2 linked regions of the Homo sapiens genome follow. The protein of the gene in region 2 interacts with the protein of the main gene of each other region in a biochemical or structural test. Each region holds a gene or a part of one and is shown on either strand. Other genes may lie near its edges.

Region 1 (7,528 bases), on a different chromosome or scaffold from region 2:
AGGCCGACCCCTGCAAAGCCCCCAGCGTGTTCCACGGAACCCTCCCTGCTACCCGCTCCCAGCGCTCCTGTCGCCCTGGCCTGTGCTTTTGAGTCCCCCCAGGACGCACAGGGAGCCTGGAGGACCCGGGGCCCGCGGGACGGTGCTGGGACCCTCCGGTCAGGACCGGGCTGCATCAGCCTTGCGTGGAAACAGATCCTGACGGGGAAGCCCACGTACAGTGAGGACGGGGCAGCCCCCTGGGCAGCTCTCGCGTGTGCTAGATCCAGCAGTGTGTGTGCAAGGTCTTTCTTTTCTTTCTTTTCTTTTTTTTTTGGTTGACAGCTTTATTGAGATGTCCTTCACACACACCAAGCAATTCACCCACTTAACAATTCGGTAGTGGCCAGATGGTGGGGGAGGATCGCTGGAGCCCAGGAGTTCCAGACGAGCCTGGGCAGCATAGCAAGACCCCTCTCTATTAAAAAAAAAAAAAGGCAGGGCGCGGTGGCTCACGCCTGTAATCCCAGCACTTTGGGAGGCTGAGGCCGGCGGATCACCTGAGGTCAGGAGTTCGAGACCAGCCTGGCCAACATGGTGAAATCCCGTCTCTACTACAAATACAAAAAACAAATTATTCAGGCGTGGTGGCAGGTGCCTGTAATCCCAGCTACTTAGGAGGCTGACGCAGGAGAATGGCTTGAACCCAGGAAGCCAAGGTCACACCACTGCACTCCAGCCTGGGTGACAAGAACAAAACTCCATGTAAAAACAAATCAAGAAACCTCAAATCCGTCGACCCCCACTGCTGCCCTGCAGAAGGTCCTATTACCGTCCTCACCCGCCTTTACAGGTGGGGAAACTGAGGACTGCAAGCCAAACAGCTTGCCTCAGCATGAGCTGACTCATGGCTGAAACCAACAGCACTTTTGTTGAATGAGAATAACCCTTTTATTTTGAGACGGTGTCTCGCTCTGTTGCCCAGGCTGGAGTGCAGTGACGCGATCTCAGCTCACTGCCCCCTCCACCTCCCGGGTTCAAGTAATTCTCCTCCCTCAGCCTCCCAAGTAGCTGGGATTACAGGCATCTGCCACCACACCCAGCTAATTTTTGTATTTTTAGTAGAGTCGGGGTTTCACCATGTTGCCCAGGCTGGTCTTGAACTCCTGACCTTGTGATCCATCTGCCTCAGCCTCCCAAAGTGCTGGGATTACAGGCAACAGCCACCGCGCCCGGCCACAGCTCTAGTTCTTTTTCTTTTTTTTTTTTTTGAGACGGAGTCTCGCTCTGTCGCCCAGGCTGGAGTGCAGTGGCACAATCTCTGCTCACTGCAAGCTCCGCCTCCCGGGTTCACGCCATTCTCCTGCCTCAGCCTCCCGAGTAGCTGGGACTACAGGCGCCCGCTACCACGCCCGGCTAATTTTTTGTATTTTTAGTAGAAACGGGGTTTCACCGTGTTAGCCAGGATGGTCTCGATCTCCTGACCTCGTGATCCGCCCGCCTCGGCCTCCCAAAGTGCTGGGATTACAGGCGTGAGCCACCGCGCCCGGCCCACAGCTCTAGTTCTTTAATACACATCAGGTCGGTCATGGTGGCTCATGCCTGTGATCCCAGCATTTGGGGAGGTCAAGGCAGGAGCGTCCCTGAAGGCTGGCAGTTCAAGACCAGCCAGGGCAACATAGCAAGACCCCATTTCTACAAAAAATTAAACAGCCAACCAAAAAAAAAAAAAAAAAGAAAGAAAAACTTTAGCTGGACATGGTGGAGCATGCCTGTGGTCCCAGCTACTTGGGGGGTTGAGGCAGGAGAATTGCTTGAGCCCAGGAGGTCGAGGCTGCAGTGAGCCATGATTACACCACTGCACTCCAGCCTGGGTGACACAGCCAGACCCTGTCTCAAAAAATATATATGTATATTTTAAAATATTATATATTATATAATGTAAATAATATACATGCTACATATTTTATGTATACATCTATGTTATATACATTAATATAGCCAGGTGCAGTGGCTCACACCTGTGTTCCCAGCACTTTGGCGGGATTACGGGCGGGTCACCTGAGGTCAGGAGTTCGAGACCAGCCTGGCCAATATAGTGAAACCCCGTCTTTACTAAAAATACAAAAAAAAAAAAAAATTAGCCAGGCGTGGTGGTGGGCGTCTATAATCCCAGCTATACAGGAGGCTGAGGCAGGAGAATTGTTTGAACCCGGGAGGCGGAGATTGCAGTGAGCTGAGATCGCACCACTGCTCTCCAGCCTGGTGACAGAGCGAGACTCTGTCTCAAAAAAAAAAAAAAATCCAAAGGGGAAAACAGTAACTGGACAGTGCAGGAACCGGCAGATGCCCTGACCACGTGGTCAAGGTTATTACCATCAGCACGAGACAGGCCGAAGCCATGGGCTTCGACGTGGGGGGCCTGAGACAGACACACGCCACGCCCGGGACTCCCTCCATTGAGTCCTGAGGCCACCCAGGACCATCCCCACGGAGGGACGCTCTGCAGAGTGACCACCAGCTCTCCTCAATGGTCCCAAGGGCTGAGGGAGGGCAGAGGGACTGCGCCCGCTGGAGGAGACCCTGACATCTGAAGATGGGTGGCTTGTGTACCCAGGACCCAGCAAAGGGTGGCTGGTGATACTCAGGGGGCTGGGGCAGAGGGGGCCATTTGGAATCAACTTTCGCGCCCTGGCTTCGATCACAGCCTGGAGGGTTGAGCAAGAGGACAGAATTTAGGGAAGCTGGGGGAGGGAGGCCGGGGGAGGGAGTTTGGGGAGCGGGGAGGGAGTTTGGACCCTTTGGACTTCTGTAAGCGTGAAATCCTTTCCAAATGAAACGTTAAAAAGCTTTTTTTCTTTTTGGCCTCCAAGTTCATTCAGTGCTTCTCTCCATTTCACTGTAGGTTTAAACCGTTCAGTTATAAATAAATAATTTTATCCTCTGTCCTCGGCTTTCCCCCGTTTCCGGCACTGCAGACATGGGGGCTGGATTTGTCTCTGCGGCGGGGCCATCCTGGGCACTGCAGGGCCCTGCCAGGAGCTCCCTCCAAGTCGTGACAACCACGGATGTCTCCAGGCCTCACACAGGGACCCCTGGGGGCAGAATCACCCCAGGGTTAGAGGATTCCACAGACCCCAAGAGACTCTGAGTCCCATGATCCTCTGCCCTGCTGAGGTCCCAGGAGGCTGCACACATTGAAATCCACACCCTGAGTGGGAGGGAGAGAGGAGGCGAGTCCCGGGAGCTGGGGTCCCCCGGGTTTATGCCGTACGCCCCATCGGGAGTTTATTCTGGTGTCCGGTGTGAGCAGGGGGCAGACTGGATTTTTTATTTTTTATTTTTATTTATTTATGTTTTGAGATGGAGTCTTGCTCTGTTGCCCAGGCTGGAGTGCAGTGGCACGATCTTGGCTCCCTGCAACCTTCGCCTCCCAGGCTCAAGTGATTCTCCTGCCTCAGCCTCCTGAGTAGCTGGGACTACAGGCGCCCGCCAACACGCGCAGCTAATTTTTGTATTTTTAGTAGAGATGGGGTTTCACTATGTTGGCCAGGCTGGTCTTGAACTCCTGACCTCAGGCGATCCACCCGCCTCGGCCTCCCAAAGTGCTGGGATTACAGGTGTGAGGCACCGCACCTGGCCATTTTTTTCCCCAAATAATGAACACTGGTCTCTCCCCTGGGCCCTGTGGACATCGGGGCTGGATCCTTCTCTGGGGCAGGCCCGTCCTGGGCACTGCAGGGTGCTAGGCATCATCCTTGGCCTCCACCCACTCCATGCCAGGAGCTCCCCTTTCGTGACAGCCACAGGTGTCCTCAGACCTCGCCCAGGGTCCCCTGGGGGCAGAATCACCTCTTGATTGAGAATCCTGGCCTTAAAGGGGGAAGAAAACCCCCAGACAAAACTGGCAGGAGGATGTTCGCTGGGGCCTCAGGTGAGGCACTGAGGGCACTCGTGGTGGGGCCCTGCCTTCCCGAGCTCTGCATCCTGTCCCCTGCTACGTCCTGCTGTCTGTCCGTTTCCAGCTCACCCACCCACGGGACACACCTGCCACGGCCGGCTTTGCTGGGGCCACAGGGACCTCGTCAGGGAGGCGTCTCCTTGTGGGTGGCACGTGGGCATGTGTTGCTCTGAGGGCTGTGGCCATGTTGCCCACCTGGCCAGGGACCCCCGACTTGGGTGGGTGACAGCCAGCCTCCCCGCCCCCACAAAGGTTGGGACCTTGAGCCCAAAGCCCCCACCTCCTCCCCGGAGTCCGTTCTGACTCCCAGGCTCCCAAGGCAAAAGGAGGAAGTGGGGACCCAGCCTGGGCATTGGGCAACTCAACGGCCTCTGGCATTGGGCTATAAGAGGAGCTTGACCGTGGGTGCACCCTGGACCCCACCATGGCTCACCGGCCCCCCAGCCCTGCCCTGGCGTCCGTGCTGCTGGCCTTGCTGCTGAGCGGTGAGTGAGCCACGTGCCCATCCATCCAGCCTCCAGGCCCCGGTGGATTGTGGGGAAATATCCACCACGAGGTCCATCCAAAGCCCTTCTGGCACAGCTGGGGAAACTGAGGCAGGGTCAGGGGAGACTCCACTCACTGCTCGGGACCAACGCTTGCAGGGGTGGGGAGGACAAGGGCAAGGGGGAGCCCTGGCCATTTGACTCAGTTGCCTATCTGTAAAACGGGCAAAACCCAGCCCTTCCCTCCTGAGGAGCTGTTTTGGGAATTAGCTAGTAACAGGCGAATTCCTGGACAGCACCCAGCCTTCAGCAAATGCTCAGTGAATATGCATGAATGAATGAATGAGTGAATGAATGAGTGAGTGAGTGAATGAGTGAACAAATGAATGAGTGAATGAATCAATGAGTGAGTGAATGAATGAGTGAATGAGTGAATGAGTGAACGAATGAATGAGTGAATGAATCAATGAGTGAGTGAATGAATGAGTGAATGAGTGAATGAATGAGTGAATGAGTGAATGAGTGAACGAATGAATGAGTGAATGAATGAATGAGTGAGTGAGTGAAAGGGTCGAGGAGTTAGTGATGCTGGAATCAGGGGAAGAAGAGAGCATGGGCCCCCTCAGGTCCCTATCCTGAGGGTGATTTTCTTTTTCTTTTTCTTTTTTTTTTTTTTGAGACGGAGTCTCGCCCTGTCGCCCAGGCTGGAGTGCAGTGGCGCGATCTCGGCTCACTGCAAGCTCAGCCTCCCGGGTTCACGCCTTTCTCCTGCCTCAGCCTCCCGAGTAGCTGGGACTACAGGCGCCCACCACCATGCCTGGATAATTTTTTGTAATTTTTGTAGAGACGGGGTTTCAAGGTGTTAGCCAGGATGGTCTCGATCTCCTGACTTCGTGATCCGCCTGCCTCAGCCTCCCAAAGTGCTGGGATTACAGGCGTGAGCCACCGCGCCTGGCCCTTTTTTTTTCTTTTTTGAAACGGAATCTTGCTCTGTCGCCCAGGCTGGAGTGCAGTGGTGCAATCTCAGTTTACTGCAGCCTCAGCCTCCTGGGGTCAAATGATTCTCCTGCCTCCGCCTCTTGAGTAGCTGGGATTACAAGCACACACCACCACACCTGGCTAGTTTTTGTATTTTTAGTAGAGATGGGGTTTCACCACGTTGGTCAGGCTGGTCTCGAACTCCTGACCTGAGGGGGATTTTCAATGCCTCAGTTTGTTCATCTGCAAAATGGGTCTCTTTGTTGGCTGATTTTTTTTTTTTTTTTTGCTTCTTTTTTTTTATTTTGTTTTGTTTTGTTTTTTTGAGATGGGGTCTCACTCAGGCATGAGCCACTGCGCCCAGGATTTTTTTTTTTTTTTTTTTTTTTTGAGACAGAATCTCACTCTGTTGCCCAGGCTGGAGTGCAGTGGTGTGATCTCGGCTCACTGCAACCTGTGCCTCCTGGGTTCAAGCGATTCTCCTGCCTCAGCCTCCCAGGCAGCTGAGATTACAGGTGCGAACCACCACACCTGGCTAATTTTTTTTTTTTTTTTTTTTGAGACGGAGTGTCATTCTGTTGCCAGGCTGGAGTGCAGTGGGGCGATCTTGGCTCACCACAACCTCCGCTTCCTGGGTTCAAGCGATTCTCCTGCGTCAACCTCCGGAGTAGCTGGGACTACAGGCACGTGCCACCACGCCCAGCTAATGTTTGTATTTTTAGTAGAGACAGGGTTTCACCATGTTGGCCAGGATGGTCTCCATCTCTTGACCTCAGGTGATCCACCCACCTCGGCCTCCCAAAGTATTGGGATTACAGGCGTGGGCCAACCGCACCCGACCAATTTTTCTGCTTCTTTAAAAACATTTTTTTAAATTTTGTTTTAGAGACAGGGTCTTGCTCTGTTGCCCAGGCTGGAGTGCAGTGGTGTGATCTCAGTTCACTGCAGCCTTGACCTCCTGGGCTCAAGCGATCCTCCCTCCTCAGCCTCCCAAGTAGCTGGGACGACAGGTGCACACCACCATGCCTGGCTAATTTTAAAATTTTTTGTAGAGATGGGGTCCTCACAATTTTGCCCAGGCTGGTCTTGAACTCCTGAGCTCAAGGGAGCCTCCTGCCTCGGCCTCCCAAAGTGTTGGGATTACAGGCGTGAGCCACTGCACCCAGCCACCTGGTCTGCGTCTTAAAAGCCTTCCTGACTCTCAGGACTGAAAGCTGCCACCAGGGCGCCTTTGGAAATCGTCGTAATTATAACCCCCCCGGCCTGGGCGCTGAGTCCTTCCCACCAGCCAGCAGGCACTGACCGGGTTGCAGATCGGGAGACGGAGGCTCGGAGAGGCCCAGGGGCTGCTCTGCCATCCCCCCTTTCCCTGCAGCCTGGGGGCTCCCTGACGCCTGGACTCCCCCCCTGCAGGTGCTGCCCGAGCTGCGGAGATCGTGGGCGGGCACGAGGCGCAGCCACACTCCCGGCCCTACATGGCCTCCCTGCAGATGCGGGGGAACCCGGGCAGCCACTTCTGCGGAGGCACCTTGATCCACCCCAGCTTCGTGCTGACGGCCGCGCACTGCCTGCGGGACATGTGAGCGGCCGCCTCCACACCCCTGTCCGCCCGCCCCGCCCTCTTCCTCCAGCCCTGGCCCGGCCACTGTCCCTCTGCCCGGGGAGGACCCAGCTAAGCCCCGTCTGCAGACCCCAGGCCCCGCGCGCGTGGGCAGTTCTGGGGGGAGGCCCGGGGCAGGGTCGCCGAGGGAGGGGTCTGGGGCTGCACCGCGGCCTCGGGAAGGGCCGGCTGTGGGCGGCGGCGAGTGTCCAGGGCGCCGAGGAGTGACCACCCCACCCCCGCAGACCCCAGCGCCTGGTGAACGTGGTGCTCGGAGCCCACAACGTGCGGACGCAGGAGCCCACCCAGCAGCACTTCTCGGTGGCTCAGGTGTTTCTGAACAACTACGACGCGGAGAACAAACTGAACGACGTTCTCCTCATCCAGGTGGGCGGGCAGGGCCGCGAGGGCTCGGAGGGGCACGGCCAGAGGGCTCCGGGACCCCCATTCCTGCAGCCAGCATTCATTGAGCACCCACTGTATACCGGGCCACGACCGAGGCCGCTGCAGCCTGGGTCCAGTGGC
Region 2 (7,956 bases):
GTGTTTCCTTCTATCACATTAAATTAATGTGTTTTTATTACTAATTATTGATGATCCCAAACCCAATACTTTATTAATTTGTCATTGCAGAACAAACAATAGGAAATCCAAAATTTATGGCTTCGTGAGACAGAATGTTTACAACTTTACACATTGCTTTTACATCACTCTTTGTTACACTTGCAGTTCCACAAATGTGGGTGGTTAAGATACTAAATATTTATATATAAGTCTGCCTTTTCCAAAGAAAATAATAAATGGTATGTTCATATTTATATTCTGTATCAAATATAATTTTACTGAAAGTTCTCAGAAATAAGCAGTAAAAATAGGATTCATCCTCTATTCAGAACCACAAAGATAGTACAGACTGAAGCTTTTAAAATTTTATTACCCTATTAACATCAGTAACTCACTTATTTTAAAATAACTTCCTTAAACTTAACATTCTGGCAAAAGTTTAATTCCCCATGTATCAGTTACAAATCAAGAGGCCCTTTGTGGTTTTATGAGACCTAGGCTGGTTCCTTTATGATTAAGACACAAAGAACAAAATTGCATAGGGTACGAAGTCCACATTACTCACCGAGATATGGAATGTTTGCACTGTGCCTATGCTCCATCTGCTTTAATGGAAATGGGGGAGGAGTCCTTAAAACTATTCTTTGCTGAGGTTTTAAAGTCCCTGGAAAACCTCAAGCTAGGAACTGATATAACCCTGCAAGAAGCAACTAACAATTAGTAACAGAGGTTTTTTTTTTTTAATGGATTTAAAAAAAACATTTAAAATGCTTTCATATCTAAAGTGATGAGTAATAGAAGTTTCGCAGCCCCTTGAACTTGAATCCCAGGCTGCACCTTGCCAAGGAACAGGTGCAGTGTAATTTGCGGCAGGTATGTTAGAAGAGCCTCCACTTTTACCACTCCTTTCTGCTGAGCTTAGAGAGAGAGAGCTAGAGTTCTCTTCTCAGAATTAAAGAGTACCAAGCACAGAAGTCCTCTCCATGTCCATTATGGACAAGAAGGAAGGCTGGGCATGAGAGTGACCTGTCACATCGCCAAGGGCTGGGTCCCGCCCCTGAAGCTGCGGGTCTCCCCCTCACCTCCCCTGCAGGGCGTGCTATGCCACAGCCCACTGAGCCATGCGCAGCACCCTGGGACTACAGAACCACAGGGTCACTTTTTCTCTTTTCCTTGCAAAAAAGCAATGCCACTATCTCCACTATAATGCATTCCCTATGTCTTATTCCTCTCATTATGCTTGAAAGTAGTGTTATATAACAGGCAATATTTATGAGTTGCATATCATCATATGCAAAGCAAAAACTGGAAGATGCTAGCTCAGGAGGATGTAGTATGCCTTTCAGGAAAGCTGTCAGATTCATCCACTGGAACAGAAGCCTCGCCCTGCAGGGATTTTTGTCAGCTTTGCTCACTGCTGTCTCCTCAGCAATACGAAAAACAGTTCCTGGTACGTGGTAGGTACTTAGGAAAAACCTGATGATGAATGGAAGCCTGCATACAAGTGTGACTTTTCTGAAAGTCTGATCTCATAAAAATACAGTTCTGAAAACACAAGGTAAGAGCTCAAAGGCACAACCTTTCCATGCAGACTGTCCATTCGTAGGGAGATGGGAGGAAAGCAGACCCTTTTTTTTGTTTCTGCTGACCTTGGACAGCTGTGCTGCCGTGTTACCTCTGGTCCCCAGAAAAACCATGGCCATAGCAGATGAAATGCTGAAGGGAGAGATGAAGATGTTTCCAGCCGGATTGTTCTCACTCAACGCCAGGAACAGGTCCAAGGCGAAGCGGGTGTTTGCTGAGCTCAGCTGCTCCATGGTGAAAACTGCAACACAGAACAGGGTCCTCATGGTGCCCACTGCCCACGCCAGCAGATTAGGCAGCACTATTTCTCCAGAAGCTTCCTCAATTTCTGCCAACCGCCCTGAGGCATCCTGGATCTTGTACTTTCTCCCCGCTTTTTTATTCCAGCAGGGCAAGAACACTTTCCCAGGCCCACAAATGTGGGACCATTCTGGCCAAGGACTCAGCAGTTATAGGGGATTTTAGGGCACCCAGGGTGCCCTAAAGGGCTCTGACCTTGCAGACAGGTGAGTCTGGGGGTGGGGCGGGGGTAAGGCAGGCCCCAGCTACCCCAGCTTTAGTGGGGTGGGAGGGCCCACCCAGCCCTGGGTCTTCCCAACCTATGTGTGGGAGCGCACGTGCTTCTGAGCCTTTGATTCAAGTCTCTGATTCATTGGGCAATGAATCCATTGCCTACCTTCACCTGAACTAAGAGCCTTCTATCAGAGACTCAGCTACCTACTATGCATTAAAACTCCAGCAAAGGTATCACTGTAATTATTATAATAATATAATTCTTCCTTATTTTTGAGGTTCAAAAGGTATGAGGTCCAGTGCCCACAGTCTCAGAGCCGGTGTAGGATGTGCCAGTTTGGAAACCCACCACAGTCCAGGGTCTGGCCGTGCAGCGTCCCATCCGCCACCCACTAGCCCATCTCGATCTCCACTCTCAGAGCCCTGATTTCCCCCGAGGACAGGCAAAGAAGAACCGTGCTGGCTGCTCGGCATGTAAGCACAAAGCTGATTTCTCCTTGTTGTGAAATCGTCTCTAGAATCGCACGGGGTTCCTCCTCTCTCTCCCTGCAGCTGCAGATAGGAGCCGCGGCCTGGCCCTGGGCTGCCTGGAAACCGTCACAAACAGCTCTGGGAGGAAGGGAATTCAGGGAGAAGGGACAACATTCTGATCTCAGGTTTCAGTCTTGCCTTCCGCCTGCATCTGTCGTCCTCCCTCCCTCCCTCCCTCGCGGGCTGGCCCGGCCTGTACCCAGGCGGGGGCGGGGGATCAGAGGTCGTCTGTCTCCGTCGGGGCGCCCGGAAGGGATGGGGGCGCGAAGCTGGCGGGGAGGGCGAGCGCAGGGAGCTGCGGGTCTGAGGGGCCTGAGCCTGGGGGGTGGGGGGTGCCGGGCTGGAAGCTGAGCGAGGGAGCCTGGCCTCTCCCCGCGCCCGCCCCCGCGCCACCGCTCCGAGGCCCGGCCTTACCCGACAGGCCGCCGAGGCACGCTCCGGGCTCCGAGCTGGGTGCGAGGTCAGGAAGGAGGCACCGAGGGCCGCTGCTCTTATAGCAGGCGGAAGCGTCACCCGGGCCAGCAGCCGCGGGCGGGGCGGCGGCCCTTCCCGGTGACTGCGTAGGAGTCCGAGCTCCCGAGGTCGCCTAAGTGCAAGCAGAAGTGAGCGTGGCTTCCGGGCAGCGCCCTCCTCAGGGGCGCGGCTTCTTTCTCAGTTCAAAGCCTTTCCCCGAATCTCTGGCAAGGACCTGAAAAGCTTTTTCTTACTAAGGTGTGAATGACTGAGACGACATATTGTGACACCTCTTAGAGGGCAAATGACTCCCTTTGAGTCCCATCTATATTGGGAGCTTTCTTTGAGAGAAGGAAGCAAATTTGGGGATCTTGCACAGGGAAAAAGAGGGGCCCCCAGAATCAGATGAAACAGAACCAGTTCCAAACACCTGCTCTCTGTTTCCAAGATGACAGCTTGCTGCTGCGTCCTCAATGGTGGAAAGTGGAAGGGCAAAAGGGGCCAAATCTCATGTGAAGTCTCTCGTATAAGGGGCCAATCCCATTCATGAGGAAGGTGCCCTCATAATCCAGTCACCTCCTAAAGGCACCACCTGTTAGTATTGCATTGAGGATTGTTTCAGCATGAATTTTGCAGGGAACACAGACATTCAAAGCATAGCATTCTGCCCCTGCCCTCCAAATTCATACCCCTCTCACATGCAAAATGCATGCATTGTATCCCAGTGGCCTCCAAAGTTCCAGTATCAACTTTAAAATGTAAGTCCAAAGTCTCACCTAAATATCTTCTAAATTAGAAAGGCATAAGATTCAAAGTACAATTCATCCTAAGTGAAATTCCCCTCCAGCTATGAGCCCGTGAAATCAAATAGGTTACAGGCCTTCAAAATACAGTGATGAGACAGGCATAGGACGTACATTCCCATTCCCAAAGGGAGAAGCAGGCAAGAAGAAAGGAGTATCTGGTCCCAAGTAAGTCCAAACCCAACAAGGCAAACAGCATTAAATCTTGGGGCTTCAGAATAATCTTCTTTGATGCTGTGTCCCCCATTCCGAGCACAGGGGGGTGGAGACTGGGTCCCCTAGTGTCCAGGGGATCCACTCCCATGGATTTGCCAGGTGCAACCCATGCAGCAGCTCTCACAGGTTGAGGTCTAGGCTCTCCCAGGATAGACTTGCATGCTGGTGGCTGGACAGTTCTGGGTTCTCAGGGACAGCCCTGTTCCCACAGCTCCACTAGATATTACTCTATTTGGGGCTCTCTGCAGTGGCCCCAATCCCACTGCTCCACTAAACATTGCCCTAGTGAGGGTTTTCTGCAGCAGCCTCACCTCAGTGACAATTCTCAGACTGGGCCCCCAGGGTCCCCAACACATCCTTCAAAATCTAGGTGGAGGTGGCTGTGTCTCCACAGTTCATGCACTCTGTGCACCTGCAGAGTTAGCATCACGTGGACTCTGCCAAGGCTTACAGGAAGGGTGGCCTGACAAGGGCCTGCATAAGCCACACGTGGGATGGTGGCCAAAGAGTGCTGCACCAGAATGTGGGGGGTGGGGGGGCAGAGACTTGAGGCAGCCCTAGGCAGCAAGCCCCAAGGTTCCATGGTGTCCTGAGTCCTCCCTTAAAACTATTCTGCCCTCAGGGTCCTGGCACTCTGGGACAGGGATGAGAATCCAGAACCAGTAACCTCAGAAATGCCTTTGGGTTCATTCTTCCATTGTCTTGATAAATAGCATCTGGCTTCCTTCTACACATACTCATCTCATTATCAAATGTGAACCTGGCAGCACTCTTGGTGTTCCCTCCCAAACATGCCTTTTCATTCTTTACATGGCCAGGCTGAGAATTTTCCAAAACTTTAAGCTCTGCTTCCCTCTTGATTATAAACTTCGTTTTTAATTCATTCTCTCTGCTCACATTTTACTACAAGCAGTCAAGAGAAGCCATGCTGCACTCTCAACGCTTTGCTCAGAGATTTCTTCCATCAAATATCCTAGTTTATTGCCTTTAAGTTCTGCCATTCAGAAAACACTAGGACATAGACACAATTCAGCCAAGTTCATTGCCACTGTGTAACAAGGATGACCTTTCCTCCAGTTTCCTTTTAAGATCTCATCAAAAGTGTCTTTACCATCTATACTTCTAACCGCATTCTGATCAAGACCAGACCACTTAATTAATCTCTAAGATGATTTAGGCTCTCCCTACAGCTCTCCTTGTCTTCTGAGCCCTCACCCTTAATTTCCCTTAAAGCTCTGTTTATGTCTATACAGGCTTTTTCCAGCATGCATCTCCAAATTCTTCCAGCCTCTACCCATTACTCAGTTTCAAAGCTGTTTCCACATATTTAGGTATTAGTTATAGCAACATCCCATTCTCAGTATCAATTTCTGTCATAGTCCATTTGTGCTGCTATAAATACCTGTGATTGGGCAATTTATTAAAAACAGAAATGTATTGCTCACAGTTCTGGAGGCTGGGAAGTCCAAGAATAAGGCATCCACATATTTGGTGCCTGGTGTGGGCTGCTCTCTGCTTCCAAAATGGCACCTTGTTGCTGCATCCAAGGGGGAAATATACTGTATCTTCACGTGGCGGTGGGAGGGATGGAAAGGGATGAACGCACTCCCTCAAGGGCCCAAATCCCACCCATGACGGTTCTGCCCTCATGACTTAAGCACTTCTTAAGGCTCTACCTCTTAATACTATCACATTGGTGATAAAGTTTCAACATATGAATTTTGGGGAGACACATTCAGCCCATAAAACATCTGTTCTGTCAGGTGAGGACACAGCATTTGTCCCTTCTGCCTTTCCCACCAAATGAGAACACCGCAAGAAAATGCCCTCATCAGACACTGAGTCTGCACCTGCAGATCTCGAACTTCCCAGCCTTGGACTTCCCAGCCTCCAGAACTGTAAGAAATAGGTGTCTAGTGTTTACAAGATGTTTTGATAAAGCAGCAGGAAAAGACTAAGACAGGGGCTCTTCTTGAGAAGCCGGCCTTGTTCTTATCCCTCTTGTCTAGGAGAAATGTGTGGACACGGCCACATTACTGCCCCCGAGTCTTCCTAGCCCATCTCATCCAACAATAATATGGAGAAGTGTCAGTCTCCTAAGCGTTTTTCCTTATTCTCCTCCACCTTGAATTATTCCTGAATTATTCCTCCTGCCTCCAGCTCCTGAAAGTAGAACTTAGACTTTTTCTGGCTCTTCAAACGAGCTGCTACTGATCACCCAGAACTCTCAGAAGCATCTTGAGAATTTTTTTCTTCACTCTTCAAGTCATTTTGAATTAGCTTGTTTTCTTGTTCAGTTTAAGAAACTGCTATTAAGTGAATTGTGACACTTTTAATAAACTTGCAGCATGGTGAAATTAAAAGTCTCACAATAGCGTTTTGTAAATATGTTAAATATAATTCTTGTGGGTAAATTATTTCCATGTTGTGCTCGCTGGGTAATATATTTTATTTTAGGTACTAATATATTTTATTTTATTTTATTATTTTATTTAGGTAAAATAAAATAATATATTTTCTTTTAGGTAATTTATTTTAGGTGATTTATTTTAGGTAATATATTTTATTTTATCCTCAAAAGATAAAATGTATAGTAATCCACTAGCAGTTCAGCAACTGGAAATATTTTAAACTCAAAAAAAGCAATTTTTGTGTGCCATAGCCTGTATTTAGTATAGCAAAGGAGAAATATGAAAATAATTATTACATTTGTTTTTAATAAATAATTTTTTGAGCCTGGGCAACATAGGGAGACCCTATCTCTAAAAAACTTTAAAAATTAGCTGGGTGTGGTGGTACACACCTGTGGTCCCAGCTACTTGGGAGGTTGAGGTGAGAGGATCACTTGAACCCAGGAGTTGCATGAGGCTGCAGTGAGCTATGATCGCGCCACTGCACTCCAACCTGAGTGACAAAGTGAGAACCTGTCTCAAAAATAAAAAACAAAAAACACCAAAAAACTAATTTGTAACTTATAAACACAACTAGAAAAATAACACAAAATCATTTTACAGATAATGTTTTCTTATAATAGTCTGAGAATTTTGGGTGAGACTAATTTCATGACAGTGAATAATTTTGGCCCCTGGACAGTGGTTGCAGATAACAAGACGCTTCCAGGAAAGTCTAAAATCATTTACATTTTCCTATCTTAGGCAGCTTACGTGATTGAAATGAGAGAAACAGATAAAATAATCTCTCAGGGTTTCTTCTTTTTTCTTTTCTTTTCTTTTTTTTTTTCTTTTTGAGACGGAGTCTTTTTGTGTTACCCAGACTGGAGTGCAGTGGCACGATCTTGACTCTGCTCACTGCAACCTCCGCCTCCCAGGTTCAAGCGATTCTCCTGCCTCAGCCTCCTGAGTAGTTAGGACTACAGGTGTGCATCACCATGCCCAGCTAATTTTTTGTATTTTTAGTAGAGACAGGGTTTCACGATGTTGGCCAAGCTGGTCTCGAACTCCTGACCTCAAGCAATCTGCCCGCCTCAGCCTCCCAAAGTGCTGGGATTACAAGCAAGCCACCGCGCCTGGCCAGGGTTTCTTTTAGTCCTTTCATTTTCTGCCAAATAATGGAAGAAACCTAGCATTAAAATTTCAGCTGTGTAACACAGCTTCATCCTCCAGAGGGCAGAATTCCATCATTTATAAAATACAAATCACTGGCTTCCGCTGAGACATAAATGCCAGGACATCACGTAATTTCTCCTTTTCAGTCCAGCTTGGTCCTCCTCACTGGGGTACCTAGAATGTCTATAATTTAATTTTCTCTTGCAAATATCCATGTAAGCAGTCCACTGGGGAGTTCCTCTGACCTCGCATCCTTCTTTCCCCCTCAT

The links.
Region 1: of the proteins of SERPINB1 (region 2) and PRTN3, one has a biochemical effect on the other in vitro, tested with the Homo sapiens proteins (one study listed by BioGRID).

The regions. Positions count from the first base shown.
Region 1 is NC_000019.10:836,645-844,172, forward strand, and holds the start of PRTN3 (myeloblastin precursor), read left to right. Parts: upstream 1-4,354; 5' UTR 4,355-4,364; coding exon 4,365-4,425; intron 4,426-6,816; coding exon 6,817-6,982; intron 6,983-7,248; coding exon 7,249-7,390; intron 7,391-7,528. UniProt on the Homo sapiens protein: Serine protease that degrades elastin, fibronectin, laminin, vitronectin, and collagen types I, III, and IV (in vitro).
Region 2 is NC_000006.12:2,838,749-2,846,704, forward strand, and holds the start of SERPINB1 (leukocyte elastase inhibitor), read right to left. Parts: upstream 3,116-7,956; 5' UTR 3,064-3,115; exon of another isoform or gene 2,849-3,063; intron 2,728-2,848; exon of another isoform or gene 2,468-2,727; intron 1,847-2,467; 5' UTR 1,839-1,846; coding exon 1,671-1,838; exon of another isoform or gene 1,622-1,670; coding exon of another isoform or gene 1,601-1,621; intron 719-1,600; exon of another isoform or gene 587-718; intron 1-586.